Linked DNA regions of Homo sapiens: region 1 is linked to region 2. Evidence: fine-mapped expression QTL. A gene starts in region 2. The other region holds a variant in brackets. All regions are shown on one strand. Distances are from middle to middle.

Region 1 (8,000 bases), 33 kb after region 2:
CCTTGCCGGACCGCAAAGAGCTGAGCCAGCCTCTGTGTTCTTGTTTGCATTTCATTTGAACGGCTTTCTCCTCCTGTCCCCCACCTTCCTGCCCGAGCTATTTTGGCTTTCCCTAGATGGGAATACGGCATTTTCCAGCGTGACCTCAACTCGGAAGCTGTTGTCTCCAGCCCCTGGGGGCCGGGGGCCAAGCTCGGCCATTACGGCCAGAGACTACTTTCTGGGGTCTTGGTCTCTTTTCCTAGTGACCTTCAGGGCCTGGCCACTGAGGCCTCAGTGCCGCCTCGGTCAGAGCTGGGCGGTGCCTGCCTTCCGCGGGTGGGTGGGATTGCCTGGCCAGCACAGCCTGGAATCTGCCGTGGGGGTGACCCACACACGTTTAATTTGCACTGACGTTGTTTGTTTTGGTGTCATGCGTGAAGCCTTACTTGTTCTCAGTCATGTTTACCAGACGTATTATCATGCATTTTTGTTTTCTGTCTCTTCCCCGCTAACTGCCCTTTGGCATGGCTCTTTTTGCTCATCTCACCCGCGGGATCTCTCCATCCTGACCCTGTGGCCTGGGACCTTTCCTCCTCACCCCTCCACTGGCTTGTTCTCCCCTTCCCGGGAGCTGGGCTCTCTGGGGCGTTGGGGCTCCTTCCTCACCCGATAGTCTGAGGATAGCCAGACCCCCCAAACAAGGCTTGAATAACTCTCCACCCGTGAAAGAATTCAAGGAGAGCTCTGCAGCCGAGGCCTTCCGGTGCCGCAGCATCAGTGTGTCTGAACATGTGGTCCGCAGGTAGCGGGACTGTCGGGTGGGGGGCACGGACCCTGGAGCTTGGCCCCGTGAGCACCTGGGTGGCAGTGCATGGGGCTGCTTGCATGACCTCATCGTCTGCCCGTGTCCTCCCTGGCCAGCCCAGGGGGAGCCGGTGACGAGGGGTGGAAAGGTTGCATTCTGTCCCCAGGCCCCGTATGAGCACGGGCTGGTTGCACGCATCCCCAGGCCCCCTCGGGGTGCCGCTCCGAGAGAGCCAGGCGTGCCGGGCAGCAGCCTCCCCAGGCTGTCCCCAAGGGCCGCAGTGTGGGTTGGGGGAGACACCACTCCTGGTTTTGGCCTTTTCGTATTCTCTAGAATGGACGTTTTTCTTCGGGCTTTCTTCTCAACAAGGTTTATTTTTTGTTGTAGCTGAAAGGGAACAAGGGGCATTTGTGGAGGGTGCTGGGGTGGGGCAGCCTGGGAGGGCCTGGGTGGGGGCTAGGATCCTGCAGGGCATGGGCATGGGCCTGGGCCCCAGGCCATGGTCTTAGTTCTCCCCGCAGTGTCTGGGTGCAGGTGTGGGCTCTCGGGCTCTCGGCTGTCACCTGCCTGTGGGTCATCGCTGCTGGCACTGGCAGAGGGGATACCTGTCTCCTCCTGGAAGCCCGTTGCAGGCCAAGGGGTCCCATGGCCCTCAGTCCATCCACCTCCTCACCTCAGGCCGGCCTCTGCTGGGTGGGACTTGGCCAGGGGTTGGGGTGGTAGAGGTGCTCGGTGAGGCTTAAAGCCATTTTCTAGCACATTCTGTATCATGAGCAAAATATTGCCTAGGGGCTATGAAATTTGTATCAGAATGAACTCCCATAAGCCTCTTCCCTGTCACTGGGTGTGGAGCTCAGGCAGCCGCTCGCCTGCCTGAGGGTGACGGTGGAAGGCCACATGGGGATCCCAGACCTCTGTGTGCTTGCCGGAGGCAGCCTGCGGGCAGAATGCAATCTGGGCCTGTCTGTGTGGCCTCCGCCTCTCTGCATGACTACACCGTTTCGCCAGGAGGCCGTAACCTAGTGCTCCCGTGGGCTTCGGTGAGGGGGATGTCGGTCTCTAGCCTCCTGAGTCTGCTCCGACCAGTAGGCCTGGTCTTCCCCACCCAGCGTCTCCCCGTTCTCTGGGACAATGTGGTCCACGTGATTCTCAAGCTGAGGCTCGCTGGGCCGCCCACGCCCTGTTGGGGTCTTTCCGAGCGAGGTCCTCAGCCGTGCATGCGTTGAGCTTTGGCCCTTGGTGATAGGTGGCTCGGCCCGCCCTACCTGGCACCCTGACCCTGGTCACGGCCTCTCCCTCCAGCAGGATACAGACGTCCCTCACCAGTGCCAGCTTGGGGTCTGCAGATGAGAACTCCGTGGCCCAGGCTGACGATAGCCTGAAAAACCTCCACCTGGAGCTCACGGAAACCTGTCTGGACATGATGGCTCGATACGTCTTCTCCAACTTCACGGCTGTCCCGAAGAGGTCCAGGCGGCACTACAGGGCTGGGCGGGCCTGCGGGAGCTCCACGGGCAAGCTGGGTTTCACGCTCCCTGTCTTCTAGGTCTCCTGTGGGCGAGTTCCTCCTAGCGGGTGGCAGGACCAAAACCTGGCTGGTTGGGAACAAGCTTGTCACTGTGACGACAAGCGTGGGAACCGGGACCCGGTCGTTACTAGGCCTGGACTCGGGGGAGCTGCAGTCCGGCCCGGAGTCGAGGTGACTGCACCTTCCTTTCCTCCGCGCCTGCCAGCCTCGACACCGGCTGTCCCGAGCCCAGGCCCACGTGGCACCCTCGTACCAGCCTGGGGACTAAGTCCACCCTGTGCGTGGGATTCTCTTCTCAGCTCCAGCCCCGGGGTGCATGTGAGACAGACCAAGGAGGCGCCGGCCAAGCTGGAGTCCCAGGCTGGGCAGCAGGTGTCCCGTGGGGCCCGGGATCGGGTCCGTTCCATGTCGGGTGAGCCTTGGCCCCAGCCACCTCCACACAGGCACCGGGGCTCCCTCAGTTGCTGCTGGTCCCAGTGTTCAGGAAGGCCCCGAGCCCAGGGGCCGGGGTGGCTGGCTTCAGGCCCGGCCCACGTCCTGACTCTGGGGTGAGCCTTCCACAGCTCACCCCAGAGCCGTGGAGTGGTGGAGTGTGGCCCGCTTGCTGCAGAGGGGCCTGCTCTGGGTGCTGGTGTTTCCTGCGGGTTTTCAGCTCGGCTCAGTCCTGGAGCCCTTCTCTGCTCCAGCGAGCCGTGGTCTGACTGCAGGACAGGTTCTGGGTCCCTCCCTGTGGCCCTGGGTTCACTGAGGCCAGCACTGTGGTGGGCCGTGCCCCAAGGGCAGAGCTGCCACCGTCTCTGGCTGCCTGTGGCACTAGCTTGCCAGGCTCGGGGGGAGCATTCAGCTTGAGGCTGGTGGTTTTGCATCAGGTAAGTGGTGGTCACCAGTCCTCTGCCCTCTTCTTCAGGGGGCCATGGTCTTCGAGTTGGCGCCCTGGACGTGCCGGCCTCCCAGTTCCTGGGCAGTGCCACTTCTCCAGGACCACGGACTGCACCAGCCGCGAAACCTGAGAAGGCCTCAGCTGGCACCCGGGTTCCTGTGCAGGAGAAGACGAACCTGGCGGCCTATGTGCCCCTGCTGACCCAGGGCTGGGCGGAGATCCTGGTCCGGAGGCCCACAGGTACTGGGCGGGGCTGGCCTGAGCGCCATCTTTCTGCCAGTCACCCACAGAGCTGTGGACACTCAGGGGCGATTGCAGACTTGGCCCTCTTGGGATATTTGGGGGTAACTTTTGTTTTTTTTTTGAGACAGAGTCTTGCTCTGTGGCCCACGCTGGAACGCAGTGGCGCAATCTCGGCTCACTGCAAGCTCCACCTCCCGGGTTCACGCCATTCTCCTGCCTCAGCCTCCCGAGTAGCTGGGACCACAGGCGCCCGCCACCACGCCTGGCCAATTTTTTTGTATTTCTAGTAGAGATGGGGTTTCAC[T/C]GTGTTAGCCAGGATGGTCTCAATCTCCTGACCTCGTGATCCGCCCGCCTTGGCCTCCCAAAGTGCTGGGATTACAGGCGTGAGCCACCGCGCCCAGCCATTTGGGGGTAACTTGTAAGTCTCCAGAGGTGAGCTGTGAGGGGCGATCCAGGTGGCTGAGGTGGGGCAGGGGCCTGTGGCGAACCAAGTGACTTCCATGGCAGAGAGTTGCCCTCCCCGCCTGGAGGCTGCAAGTCCGAGACCAAGGTGCTCCTCGGCAGGAGGTGCTCCTCAGAGGCCTCAATCCTTGGCATGCAGTTGGTTTTTTCCCTGTGTCCTCACAGGCTCTTTCCTGGATGTCTGCGTGTTAATCTCCTCTTGGGAGGAAACCGGTCATGGCTTAGGGTCCGCTCTGGTCCCTTGCTAGCCGTAATTAGCTTTCTGAAACCCAGTCTCCAGAGACAGTCCCGTTCTGAGTTCCTGGGGTTGGGACTAAAGCATACCAACATGGGGGCACAGCTCAGCCTGTTCCCAGGGGCAGAGGGAGCCCCCGCAGAGGCCCAGAGCCCAGGGACAGAGGGAGGCCTTTGCAGAGGCCCAGAGCCCAGGGGCGCCTGGGTGTGCCGTGGCTGAGGGGTGCAAAGAGTAGGGGTTCCAGCCCTCGTGGAGGCCTTGGGTCCGGACTGTGAGGCTGTGGGCTGGAGGCCGCTGCTCTGAGGTGCCTGGCGGAGCCTGGCCTCGAGGCAGGGGCTGAGCGGGGCAGCAGGGTGGGTGGCCGTCAGAGCAGCGCTGGCTCCGACATCGTGGTCCTGAGGATTGTGGGAGGGAGCATGAGGGCAAAACCAGGGCCCAGGCCAGGAGGCCCCTGGGGGGCCAGAGATGGGTAAGGGGAGGTACTGGCCTCAGGCCAAAGGTGCTGCCGCCTCCGCAGGGAACACCAGCTGGCTGATGAGCCTGGAGAACCCGCTCAGCCCTTTCTCCTCGGACATCAACAACATGCCCCTGCAGGAGCTGTCTAACGCCCTCATGGCGGCTGAGCGCTTCAAGGAGCACCGGGACACAGCCCTGTACAAGTCACTGTCGGTGCCGGCAGCCAGCACGGCCAAACCCCCTCCTCTGCCTCGCTCCAACACAGGTGAGTGGCATGGCGGGCCTTGGCACGGGCTCTGCTCCCACTGGCCTGGTGCTCCCGGTGACGGCAATGTGGCTCCTCTCTGCTGAGGGCGCCCACACGGCTGGGAGTGGTCCCTGGCCTGCCTCAGCACCATTGTTCTCCGGTGTTTGGGAGGAGGCTGACCCGTGGGAGGTGTCTGCCCTGCTCAGGAAGCTGGGGCTGGCAGCTTCAGAAGCAGTAGGGGCCCTGTGGAGCCTCTGCCCAGCATCCTCCGTGGGGAGTCCAGCACTGCGGGCTCCAGGAGGCTCTGCGGCAGCCTCCCTCCCTGCCTGGGCCCAGGTTTGGACACCTGAGCCCGCCTGCGCACTCTGGGCCCCCACCCCACTCGGCACCGTGCTTCTCGCCAGGCCCTCTGGCTCTTCCCTGTGGCTGCAGATGGCACTTAGCGGCCTAGGACGTCTATTCACGGGAGGAGGGAGGCACTGCCCTCCTCAGGTCTGCCCAAGCAGCTTGTAGCTAGCACTGGGCCCCGTGCGCGCCCCTGCCGGCCGCTGGCCCTGCCCTCTCTCCTCTGCAGGCACGGGGCCTGTGCTCTCTGCTCGACCTGTGTGTAGCCCCTCCTCCTGCTGACGTGGCCGCACACGGCCTTCCCTTGCAGTGGCCTCTTTCTCCTCCCTGTACCAGTCCAGCTGCCAAGGACAGCTGCACAGGAGCGTTTCCTGGGCAGGTATCGCCTCTCAGAGGGAAGCGGTTGGCTGCAGAGCGCCACTCTGCCTCATAGGTGCTGTGCTCGTCGCCTCATCCGCCCACCCCCATGGTCCGTCTGCCTCCATTGCCCTGGGGAGCAGGTCCCGACTCGCATGAGGACGTCTGTGCAGAATGTCTTTGGCTTGGCCAGCGGGATCCCCTTGACTTGGTCCCTTTGTGGCTGAGCCCTGTTCCCACGCTGTGCGAGCACTCCCGGCCCAGCTTCAGGCCTGAGGGGTGGGGGTGGCCTGAGTCTCCATGGTGACATCAGCTGAGCTGCAGACTCTGATGGGTGGCAGCTGTTTAGGGGGAAGCCCACCCCTGGGCCTGCACCGAGCGGGCCTTGCCCTGGCCTTTGGTGGCTCCCCTGGCCTCTGGAACCCACAGATGGGGCTGCCTCAAGTCCCAGGTTGACCAGGGGCCCTGCAGACCGACCTCTGCCTGTTGCCCCCAAGCCCTGGTGGGGAGTGCTGTGACCTGCATGGTGCTCCCCTGCCAGGTCTCCACGTGCAGACGAGCTGGTTTGGAAGGGCTGCGTGGGACGGGCCCTGGGGTGGCTGACTGCGCGTGTGCAGGGCTGTGGGGCGCCCGGGGGCTGTGATGGTCCCCTCTGTTGCTGCTTCTACTTCCTCTCCCCCTGTCCTGACGCTGGCACAGGAAATGCTGCTTTGGGACCTCCCACCCTCTCTCCTTAGCGTCCCCAGCTGTGGGTCTGGCTTGGAGTTGGAGGGTGAGCCTCTGCTCTTGGGAGCAGTCTGTTTGCAAACAGGGACTTCCCCCACGTCACGGAGTCTCCGCAGCTCTCCTCGGTTACGAGGGCTGGTTTCAGGCTCCCGCTCTTTTAGAGCTGAGGCCCGTCGGGCGGAGAGCGTCTTGCCCCTGCCTACCTGGAGGCACAGGGGTGGCTGCTGGTGGACACTAGGGTGGGCAGAGCCGATTGCCTGCCCAACCCCCGGGCACTCATGCAGGAGAGGCCTGTGTCGGGGTCACGTGCAGGCCTTCCCAGCGTCCTCCCTGCCCGCTCGGTGGATGGCAGCAGTAAGCAGAGCCCTGGGGAGGCTCGCAGGGCTGCTGTCCCTCTGGTCAGGAGAAGGCTGGTTCTCGGAGGCCACGTCAGGGCCAGGGCCTGGCCCAGCCCCACATCCAGCAGCCCCGTCTGTGTCCTCCCAGACTCCGCCGTGGTCATGGAGGAGGGAAGTCCGGGCGAGGTTCCTGTGCTGGTGGAGCCCCCAGGGTTGGAGGACGTTGAGGCAGCGCTAGGCATGGACAGGCGCACGGATGCCTACAGCAGGGTGAGTGTGGCTCAGAGCCTGGACCCTGCTGACCTCGGGGGGCTCCTTAGGGGAGGCAGGGCTCTGCGTGGGTGTGCCTGCACCCTGGGAACTGGCTCTGAACTTGGGGGAGATGTTCTTCCACATCCCTCGTGCACAGACGGTCTGCACTTTGCAGCCATCCACCTGGGCCGGCCCTGGCTGCTGGGCAGCCTGTGGTCTCAGGGGATGCTGATACCTCTGCTCACGCAGTGTGGGGCACAGCTGGTGGCAGTGCTGCTGCGTCAACGGGCGGGGGCCGTAGCCTGGTGCTCGGGCTGGTCTGTGGCCCTGGGATGGAGGACAGATAGGGCCTCACCACCTCCAGGTCAACCCCAGGTGGGCTCGAGGGTGCCTGCTGACAGGGGTTCTCTTTGGGATGGTCCTTTCTAGTCGTCCTCAGTCTCCAGCCAGGAGGAGAAGTCGCTCCACGCGGAGGAGCTGGTTGGCAGGGGCATCCCCATCGAGCGAGTCGTCTCCTCGGAGGGTGGCCGGCCCTCTGTGGACCTCTCCTTCCAGCCCTCGCAGCCCCTGAGCAAGTCCAGCTCCTCTCCCGAGCTGCAGACTCTGCAGGACATCCTCGGGGACCCTGGGGACAAGGCCGACGTGGGCCGGCTGAGCCCTGAGGTTAAGGCCCGGTCACAGTCAGGGACCCTGGACGGGGAAAGTGCTGCCTGGTCGGCCTCGGGCGAAGACAGTCGGGGCCAGCCCGAGGGTCCCTTGCCTTCCAGCTCCCCCCGCTCGCCCAGTGGCCTCCGGCCCCGAGGTTACACCATCTCCGACTCGGCCCCATCACGCAGGGGCAAGAGAGTAGAGAGGGACGCCTTAAAGAGCAGAGCCACAGCCTCCAATGCAGAGAAAGTGCCAGGCATCAACCCCAGGTGGGCCTCTTGCTTCCGGGCGGGGCTCCTGACACCTCTCCTGCGGGAACCTGGTGCCTCACTTGCCCCAGGCCGAGCGGGCTGGGGTGGGGTCCTCGCCTGTGCCCTAGGGCTGGCTGGAACCCCTGGGAGGGCGGTGGAGTGGGAGATGGCCAGGCTCTGTGTTCCTCCCTGTGGGCTGTGGCTGCCCTGGCCAGGCCCTCACCTGGGTGCCCACCATCCCCTCC
Region 2 (8,138 bases):
GGACGTGTGCAAGCTCAGCCCCCGCCCCCCAGGAGGCGGGAACAAGCGGAGGGCAGCAGGGAGGCCCAAGGTAGGCCTGACCCCCTCCTCCCACCCGTGTGGGCCAATGATGCACGTGTAGGCTCTGGCTGGGGTTCCCCTGCCCGTCATTCCCTGCCAGCACCCAGGCCAGGCCAAGCAGGCCAGCCGCTCCCAGGAGTGGGGCTTGGCTGCACCTGCGCCTTCAGGAAGGAGGGCTGGAGCTGGGGCTTCCCCACCAGCTGCCAGGCCTGCCGGGTGGTTCCCATCCTGTGCCTGAGTGGAGAGGGCTATTTAAAACCCATCTGAGAAACTGCGGCCCACGCGGGTGCCAAGGGGAAGCGGCCCCACCCACCAAGCTGCTTTCAACAGATCCGCCCACCACCATCCAGTGCTCGGCGGGGTTGGGGAGCAGCCTCCCCAGGGCTCCTGGAGGGTGAGGGGCTCTGGACAGGAGGGGGTGACACACCGGGAGAGGCTAGCAGTAAACAAAGGGAAAGGCGGGTGGGCAGGCAGCCTTGGCGGTGAGGAAGGGTGGGCAGGCGGCGAGGCGGGGAAGCAGAGGAAGGAAGGGAGGATGCGAACAGGAAGGCCAAGGAGCTGCTGGGACTGGGCGTCAGGCCTCAGGGCCCCACGGCCTGGGGGGGGCTTCAGGGGGACCCCCCGAGCCTGAGATGCTTGACCCTCACTTCCTGCACCGTCGCCACCCCCCTCAGCCTTCTGAGGTCTCTCTCAGGCCACTGCCACCCGGCCCCCGTTGCCACAGGCAGGGCTCACCCTCCAGAAACCGACGGGGTAGATGAGCTTGCCCAGCGTGGCATCATCTGTCTGCAGGATGCTGTCCACCGTCAGGCCCCGCGCCCGCAGTCGCTGCATGGCGCCCGCCGTCACCTGGTCTTTGGTTTGGCTGGAGAGCATCAGTGACAGCAGCACCTGGTACCTGCGTACCTGCTTGTGCAGTGACAGGGACCGGGGTGGCGGCGGGTCCTGGGTGATTCCCTGGCCAGGCTCCGCCCCCCGCCCTCGACACACCCTGGTTTGTTGCCCTGGGCCACACTTGAGGCATCAGCCTCCCCCTGTGGGGTGGGGAGGTCTGGTTTGGGTATGTTTGGTCATCTACAACACCAGGACAATAATAGTACCTGACTCACTGGAGTAATGTGAAGCTTAAATGAATTATCTCAGTGCTTAGAATCGTATGTGGCCGGGCGTGGTGGCTCGCACCCGTCATCCCAGCACTTCGGGAGGCCAAGGCAGGCGGATCACCTGAAGTCAGGAGTTTGAGACCAGCCTGATCAACGTGGTGAAACCCCGTCTCTACTAAAAATACAAACATTAGCTGGGTGCGGTGGTGCATGCCTGTAATCCCAGCTACTCGGGAGGCCGAGGCAGGAGAATAATTTGAACCTCGGAGGCGAAGGTTGCAGTGAGCTAAGATTTCACCACTGCACTCCAGCCTGGGCAACAAGAGCAAGACTTGGTCTCAAAAAAAAACCCAACACGATCGTATCTGGCCCATCACTACTGAACAGCCATTGGCCACTACTATTATGATTGCTTCGTGAATCATCACACTACCCTTTAAAACAAATTTTTTTTTTTGAGATGCAGTATCACTCTTTCACCCAGGCTGAAGTGTGGTGGTGCCATCTTGGCTCACTGCAACCTCCGCCTCCGGGGTTCAAGCGATTTTCCTGCCTCGCCCTCCTAAGTAGCTGGGGTTACAGGTGCCTGCCACCACACCTGGCTAATTTTTGTATTTTTAGTAGAGACGTGGTTTCGCCACATTGGCCAGGCTGGTCTCGAACTCCTGACCTCAGGTGATCCACCCGCCTTGGCCTCCCGAAGTGCTGGGATTACAGGCCTGAACCACCATGCCTGGCCCATACTACCCATTTTACAGACAAGCAAACTGAGGCTCAGAGAGGCCTGTATCCAAGCCACCTGGTAGCAGAATAGGGATTAGAACTCAGCTTGGTCTAAGGGTTTCAGGCCCTGGGACCGTGAAGCAAAAGGAACTCTTCCTTCCTGATATCACACAAAGCCCAGGTCACGCCTGCACTGGGCAGAAGTTCGAGCACGAGGCCCTAAACCACTGGTGTCCTGACCTGCTGAGTGGCTACAGTGATGCAGGCGATGCTCTGGGGCACCGGGTGTCCATCCTCCCAAGGTGCTGTCTGCAGGGGAGGGTGCCAGCCAAAAGCCACCGGGTAGAAAGAAAACAAGGACCTTGCTAAGATGGGGGGTCATCTGGGCAGATGGGGCCCCTGCCTACCTTTGGGGGGGCACTGGAGTCATAGCAGTGCTCAGTCCCCAGATGGTCCACAGGTGCATCCTTTTTGTTCCTCATGGCACGGATGTTGACCAGCTGTTGCTGCCAGTCCTGGGGCTCCCAGACTGGCACCTTGAGGGGCTCAGCCCCCTCACCTTTCTCACTGTCCGAGCCCTCATAGGCCACACGCAGTCTCTGTGCTTTCCGCGGACGCTTCACGGGGCTGTGGCTTTTCCTCGCTTCTGCAAAAAGCACCACGCAGTCCCTCTGGTGGGGCCACAGGTGAAGGTAGGGTAGGGGTGCCATCCCGCCTGCTAGCTCACCCCTCACTCGTTCATGCCACAACTGTCCATCATCTAATACACTTGGGGTGCTCTGCCCTCTGCAGTCTGGGGTATGTGGGCCCTCCTTATGCCAGCGACCCTGACAAGGTCCATGTTAGCTCATGAGGACTCTAGCAACAGCCTGTACCAAGGTGCCCCCAATACATCTTCTATACTGCACCAGAGACAGTCTGCTAACACCCACATCAGGTTGTGTCACTCCCTTTTAAAAAATCCTGGCCGGCCGGGCGCGGTGGATCAAGCCTGTAATCCCAGCACTTTGGGAGGCCGAGGTGGGTGGATCACTTGAGGTCAGGAGTTCAAGACCAGCCTGGCCAATATGGCAAAACCCCATCTCTACTAAAAATACAAAAGTTAGCCGGGTGTGGTGGCAGGGGCCTATAGTCTCAGCTACTTGGGAGGCTGAGGCAGGAGAACTGCTTGAACCTGGGGGGCGGAGGTTGCAGTGAGCTGAGATCACAACACTCCACTACAGCCTGGGTGACAGAGCAAGACCCGATCTCAAAACAAACAACAAAACCTCCTAATTGACTTCCGTTTACTGTCATAATAAACTCCAAACTCTATCCTGGCATCAAAGCTCCTGCCACCCTGGCTGGCATCACCACCTGCCTGCTCCCAGCTGCACCAGTTCCTCCTGACATAGTCTGGACTACCCCTGGGGTCCCTGGGTGCCTATGGGAATCCAGCTCTGGCCAATTCTGCAGAAGTCCCAGCGGGACTAGCGCAGAGGCCCTGTCCGTGTCCCTCACTGCTCACTGCAGTGCTTGGCCCCCAGCAGGTCCTCAACGGCTGCAGGATAAATATAATAAGTGCCATGCCCTTTCCTGTTTTCCCTCAGAGGCACCCTCCCCCGAGCTGGGGGAGCAGGCTTCTGGCTGCGTGTGTCCTTGGCACCCAGCCTCTCCGAGGACAGCAAGTTCACTGCAGGAGGGCGGGGATGGGACCCACAGAGCCTGGAGTGGAGAGTCCCGGACAGAGTGGTGGGAAAGGAAGCGTTTTCTTGCTTGGGGCGAAAGGGGGCAGCGGAGCGGAGCGCCCGAAACCCAGCCCCTGCGGACCGCAATCTTTGGGAAAAAGGCGCAAGGTGGGAACGCAGGGCCGCACGTGGGAACCGTTCGCGGCTGCCGGGTTTGCAGCCCCTGCCCGCGCAGCTGGGAGCCGCAGGAGGCGGCCCGGGACTCCAGCCTGCAGCCCCTATCCCGCCTCCTCCCACGCTCCAGCCACGGCGCGGCGCTACCTGCTGCAGCCTCTCTTCTCCGGAGAGGCCCGGGCTCCTCCCTACACCCCCGCGGCCCAGCCCCGGGTCCCAGGCTCCGGCTCCGGGTCAGCATCCTCGCGCTCAAGGCGGTCATGCCGGACTCCTGCGGACTACACATCCCGGCGGCCCATGCGGCCCCGTCACGTGATGCAAGGATCGCCGGCCTTTCCGCCAGAGGGCGGCACAGAACTACAACTCCCAGCAAGCTCCCAAGGCGGCCCTCCGCGCAATGCCGCTACCGGAAGTGCGGGTCGCGCTTCCGGCGGCGTCCCGGGGCCAGGGGGGTGCGCCTTTCTCCGCGTCGGGGCGGCCCGGAGCGCGGTGGCGCGGCGCGGGGTAAGTGGCGGTCCCCACGGGGCAAGTGGCGGTCCCCACGGGGCAGCGGCCTAGAGAGGCGGACCCCGCAGTGTCCGGGTCCCGGGCCCTCACCCGCGCCCACTGCAACCCGACTCCGGAGCTCCGAGCATCCCTTAGTTTTAAGTCATGGCGGGTGCGAACGGGTCTCTGCTGCAGGCGGCTCCGTGACAGCTCCTGCTTCACATGGGTAGAGGAGAGACGGCAAACGTCGGGGCTCCCAGGACTTCGCGGCGGCAGTCCTAACCCGTGCACTGAGTCGGGCGGGGCGGGCGGCAGCGTCTGAGTAGAGAGCTCTCTAGACCAGGCCTGGTGTCTCCCGGGCTTTCCTAGGTGCCTGTTTGCGAGCTGGTCAGCTGGGCTGTAGTTGAGTTCTCCCAGGGAGTGTGGGAGGAAAGGTTATGCCCACCAGAGACCCAGGGTCCTGACGGCTGGAGGTCCGCAGTGGGGAAGGTGGGCAGAGGTGTTGCTCAGATGTCCCCATTCCTGTTTCGTTTGCACAGAGGGGTTTTCTGGTGCGTCCTGGTCCACCATGGCCAAACCAACAAGCAAAGATTCAGGCTTGAAGGAGAAGTTTAAGATTCTGTTGGGACTGGGAACACCGAGGCCAAATCCCAGGTCTGCAGAGGGTAAACAGACGGAGTTTATCATCACCGCGGAAATACTGAGAGTGAGTGAGCTACCTGTGTCTTTGCTAGGCTAGAGGGAAATGCAGAGAAGGCTGGGTTTGGTCTTGCACCAGGTTCTGTGGGAGACGGGTTGCTGGCAACTGTCTACACAGGAATGCTGTCTCCAGTACTTGGAGGCCGACATGTCCTTCCTCAGGAGACTTCGAAAGTCAGGATCTTGGTGACCTGGTTCAGGCACACTTGAGTTACTATTCAGATGTTGATGAAAGAAAGCCCATCTTATAGATGAGGCCTGAGTATCATCATCTTCACAGGTAAGGATATGTCCAGGTGTTACATGATAAGATGTGAGTTCCTGGGAGAAGTAGGTTCTTTATTTTATTTTTTTTTTGAGACTGAGTCTTGCTCTGTTGCCTAGGCTGGAGTGCAGTGGCACAATCTCTGCTCGCTGCTACCTCTGCCTCCCAGTTTCAAGTGGTTCTCCTGCCTCAGCCTCCTGAGTAGCTGGGACTACAGACACGTGCCACCACACCCATTTAATTTTTGTATTTTTAGTAGAGATGGAGTTTCACTATCTTGGCCAGGCTGGTCTTGAACTGCTGACCTCAGGTGATCTGCCCGCTTTGGCCTCCCAAAGTGCTGGGATTACAGGCATGAGCCATCGCACATGGGCTAGGTCGTTATCTTTTATGTGTGTTTGTGTCTTTGTCACACATGCCTGGCATTGTGTTTTGCCCATGAGTAAATGCTGAATTTTTGCACTTGTAAAGTTTTCTACTTAGAAACAACTAAAACGTTCATCAACTGATGAATAAAATATAGTCCATCCTGGCTGGGTGCGGTGGCTCACGCCTGTCATCCCAGCACTTTGGGAGGCCGAGGCGGGTGGATCACCTGAGGTCAGGAGTTTGAGACCAGCCTGGCCAACATGGCGAAACCCCGTCTCTACTAAAAATACCAAAAATTAGCCGGTCATAGTGGTGGGCGCCTGTAATTCCAGCTACTCGGGGGGCTGAGACGAGAATTGCTTGAACCCGGGAGGCGGAGGTTTCAGTGAGCCGTGATCGCGCCACTGCACTCCATCCTGGGGAAGAAGAGCAAAACTCCGTCTAAAAAAAAATTGTGCAGTTTGAAATTGTATTTCATGTTATGTTTTATCTCAATACAACATTTGCAGTTGTGAAAAAAAATTGCACATTCTCAACTCCTCGGGATGGAGCAGTAAAGCCCCTCAGTAAATCTTTTTTTTTTTTTTTTTTTGAGACCGAGTTTCGCTCTTGTCACCCAGGCTGGAGCGCAGGGGCGCGATCTCGGCTCACTGCAATCTCCGCCTCCTGGGTTCAAGGGATTCTCCTGCCTCACTCTCCCGAGTAGCTGGGATTATAGACGCCCACCACCACGCCCAGCAAATTTTTTGTATTTTTAGTAGAGACAGGGTTTCATCATGTTGGGCAGGCTGGTCTCAAACTCCTGACCTCTGGTGATCCACCTGCCTTGGCCCCCCAAAGTGCAGGGATTACAGGCCTGAGCCACCGCGGCTCGTCAAGTGAATCTTGATTCCAGAAAGATCTGTTTTAAGTCTCTAGTCTGGAAAATGCAGTGGGAGTCTTTAGGTGGTTTGTGACTTGCAGTTAAGGAGACCGTGGCCTGAGCACTGGCCCCTTTTTCTTCTTTCATCTCTCTCCAGGAACTGAGCATGGAATGTGGCCTCAACAATCGCATCCGGATGATAGGGCAGATTTGTGAAGTCGCAAAAACCAAGAAATTTGAAGAGGTAGGTTTATCCAGTTGAGCTACTAGAGAGAGGCACGTAGACTATTCAGAGCCTGAGTTTGCTTTTTTTAGGAACATGGTTGACAGCTGACTGCCGATGATCTGGTTTGCACTTTTTTTTTTTTTTTTTTTTTGAGATGGAGTCTTGCTCTGTCGCCCAGGCTGGCACAATCTTGGCTCACTGCAGCCTCTGCCTCCTGGGTTCAAGCAGTTCTCCTGCCTCAGCCTCCTGAGTAGCTGGGATTACAGGCACGCGCCACCACACCCGGCTTTTTGTATTTTTAGTAGAGACGGGGTTTCGCCATGTTGGCCAGGCTGGTCTTGAACTCCTGACCTCGTGAACCATATGCCTCAGCCTCCCAAAGTGCTGGGATTACAGGCGTGAGCCACTGCGCCCAGCCAGTTTGCACTGTTTTAGGGGAATTTAGCTTTCATCGTAGTGATGGGGAAGCTACTGGAAATGCCCCGAATACAACCTTGAGGGACCAATCAAGCGTGGAAATGGGGAGCAAAGGGATTAGGCTTTTCTAGCAACACCAGAAAGGATTTCTATGCCGAGCGGGGGTGCGGGGGCTTATGCCTGTAATCCTAGGACTTTGGGAGGCCGAGGTGGGTGGATCACGAGGTCAGGAGTTCAAGACCACTCTGGCCAACATGGCGAAACCCCGTCTGTACTAAAAGATGATGAGCCGGGCATGGTGGCACATGCCTGTAATCCCAGCTACTTGGGAGGCTGAGGCAGGAGAATCGCTTGAACCCGGGAGGCACAGGTTGCAGTGAGCCGAGATCGCCCCACTGCACTCCAGTCTGGGTGACGGAGCAAGACTCTGTCTCAAAAAAAAAAAAAAGGAAGAGTTTGTAGTGGCTGATAGAAACGCATGCTCACTCGCTCTCTCCTGTTACAAGTTCAGGCCAAGAAAAATCAAGAAAGGGTTTGTTCCACAGAGAACAATCCTAGGCACGCTGGTCTTGGTGCCATTTTGGGAGGGTGACTGGTCGGTGGTATTGGGCGACCTCACGGACATAGAAATATTTATTTTGGGCAAACATTGCCAGACTTTCCTGATGACTTGTGGACAGGACAGGAAGTGGTCATTTTGGGAGTGCAGGTTGCTGGTAGAGCACCTGAGGGCTCTGCCCTTGCCTTGCCCAGCATTTGTGTGTGGGAGAGCAGTGAGACCTGGACCTCTCATGCTCAGATCTGCTAAGAGGAGAGTGATTGCTACCTCTGCAGCAGCTCATCTGAAACGTGCTGGCCGTACGCTACCAAAGATAGGTGTAAAGAACAGGTGTCCTTAGCCGGGCGCAGTGGTTCACGCCTGTAATCCCAGCACTTTGGGAGGCCAAGGTGGATGGATCACCTGAGGTGAGGAGTTCGAGACCCGCCTGGCCAATGTGGCAAAACCCTGTTTCTACTAAAGATACAAAAATTAGCTGGGCATGGTGTCGGGCACCTGTAATCCCAGCTACTTGGGAGGCTGAGGGAG

Evidence for each region.
Region 1: its variant is fine-mapped to the expression of TSC2 in whole blood (TOPMed, PIP above 0.99). The same link has a PIP of 0.9 or more in blood mononuclear cells, fibroblasts, lung and lymphoblastoid cells.

Annotation. Positions count from the first base shown.
Region 1 is chr16:2,076,943-2,084,942 of GRCh38, forward strand. TSC2 (TSC complex subunit 2) reads left to right here. Exons shown (of 42, transcript NM_000548.5): 26 at 656-784; 27 at 2,090-2,254; 28 at 2,334-2,486; 29 at 2,615-2,727; 30 at 3,223-3,435; 31 at 4,653-4,856; 32 at 5,494-5,562; 33 at 6,753-6,874; 34 at 7,286-7,773. Among named protein-coding and RNA genes, the nearest start is that of MIR1225, 9.3 kb to the right of the region's middle. RefSeq lists an enhancer at 1,480-2,189. The variant T/C (reference allele first, on the strand shown) is at 3,743.
Region 2 is chr16:2,043,835-2,051,972 of GRCh38, forward strand. TSC2 (TSC complex subunit 2) reads left to right here and starts at 4,151. Exons shown (of 42, transcript NM_000548.5): 1 at 4,151-4,231; 2 at 4,753-4,919; 3 at 6,566-6,652. The coding sequence starts at 4,782. NTHL1 (nth like DNA glycosylase 1) reads right to left here and starts at 4,000. Exons shown (of 6, transcript NM_002528.7): 1 at 3,875-4,000; 2 at 2,294-2,532; 3 at 796-966. The coding sequence starts at 3,989. RefSeq lists enhancers at 3,404-3,903, 3,495-3,554, 4,005-4,094 and a silencer at 4,185-4,414.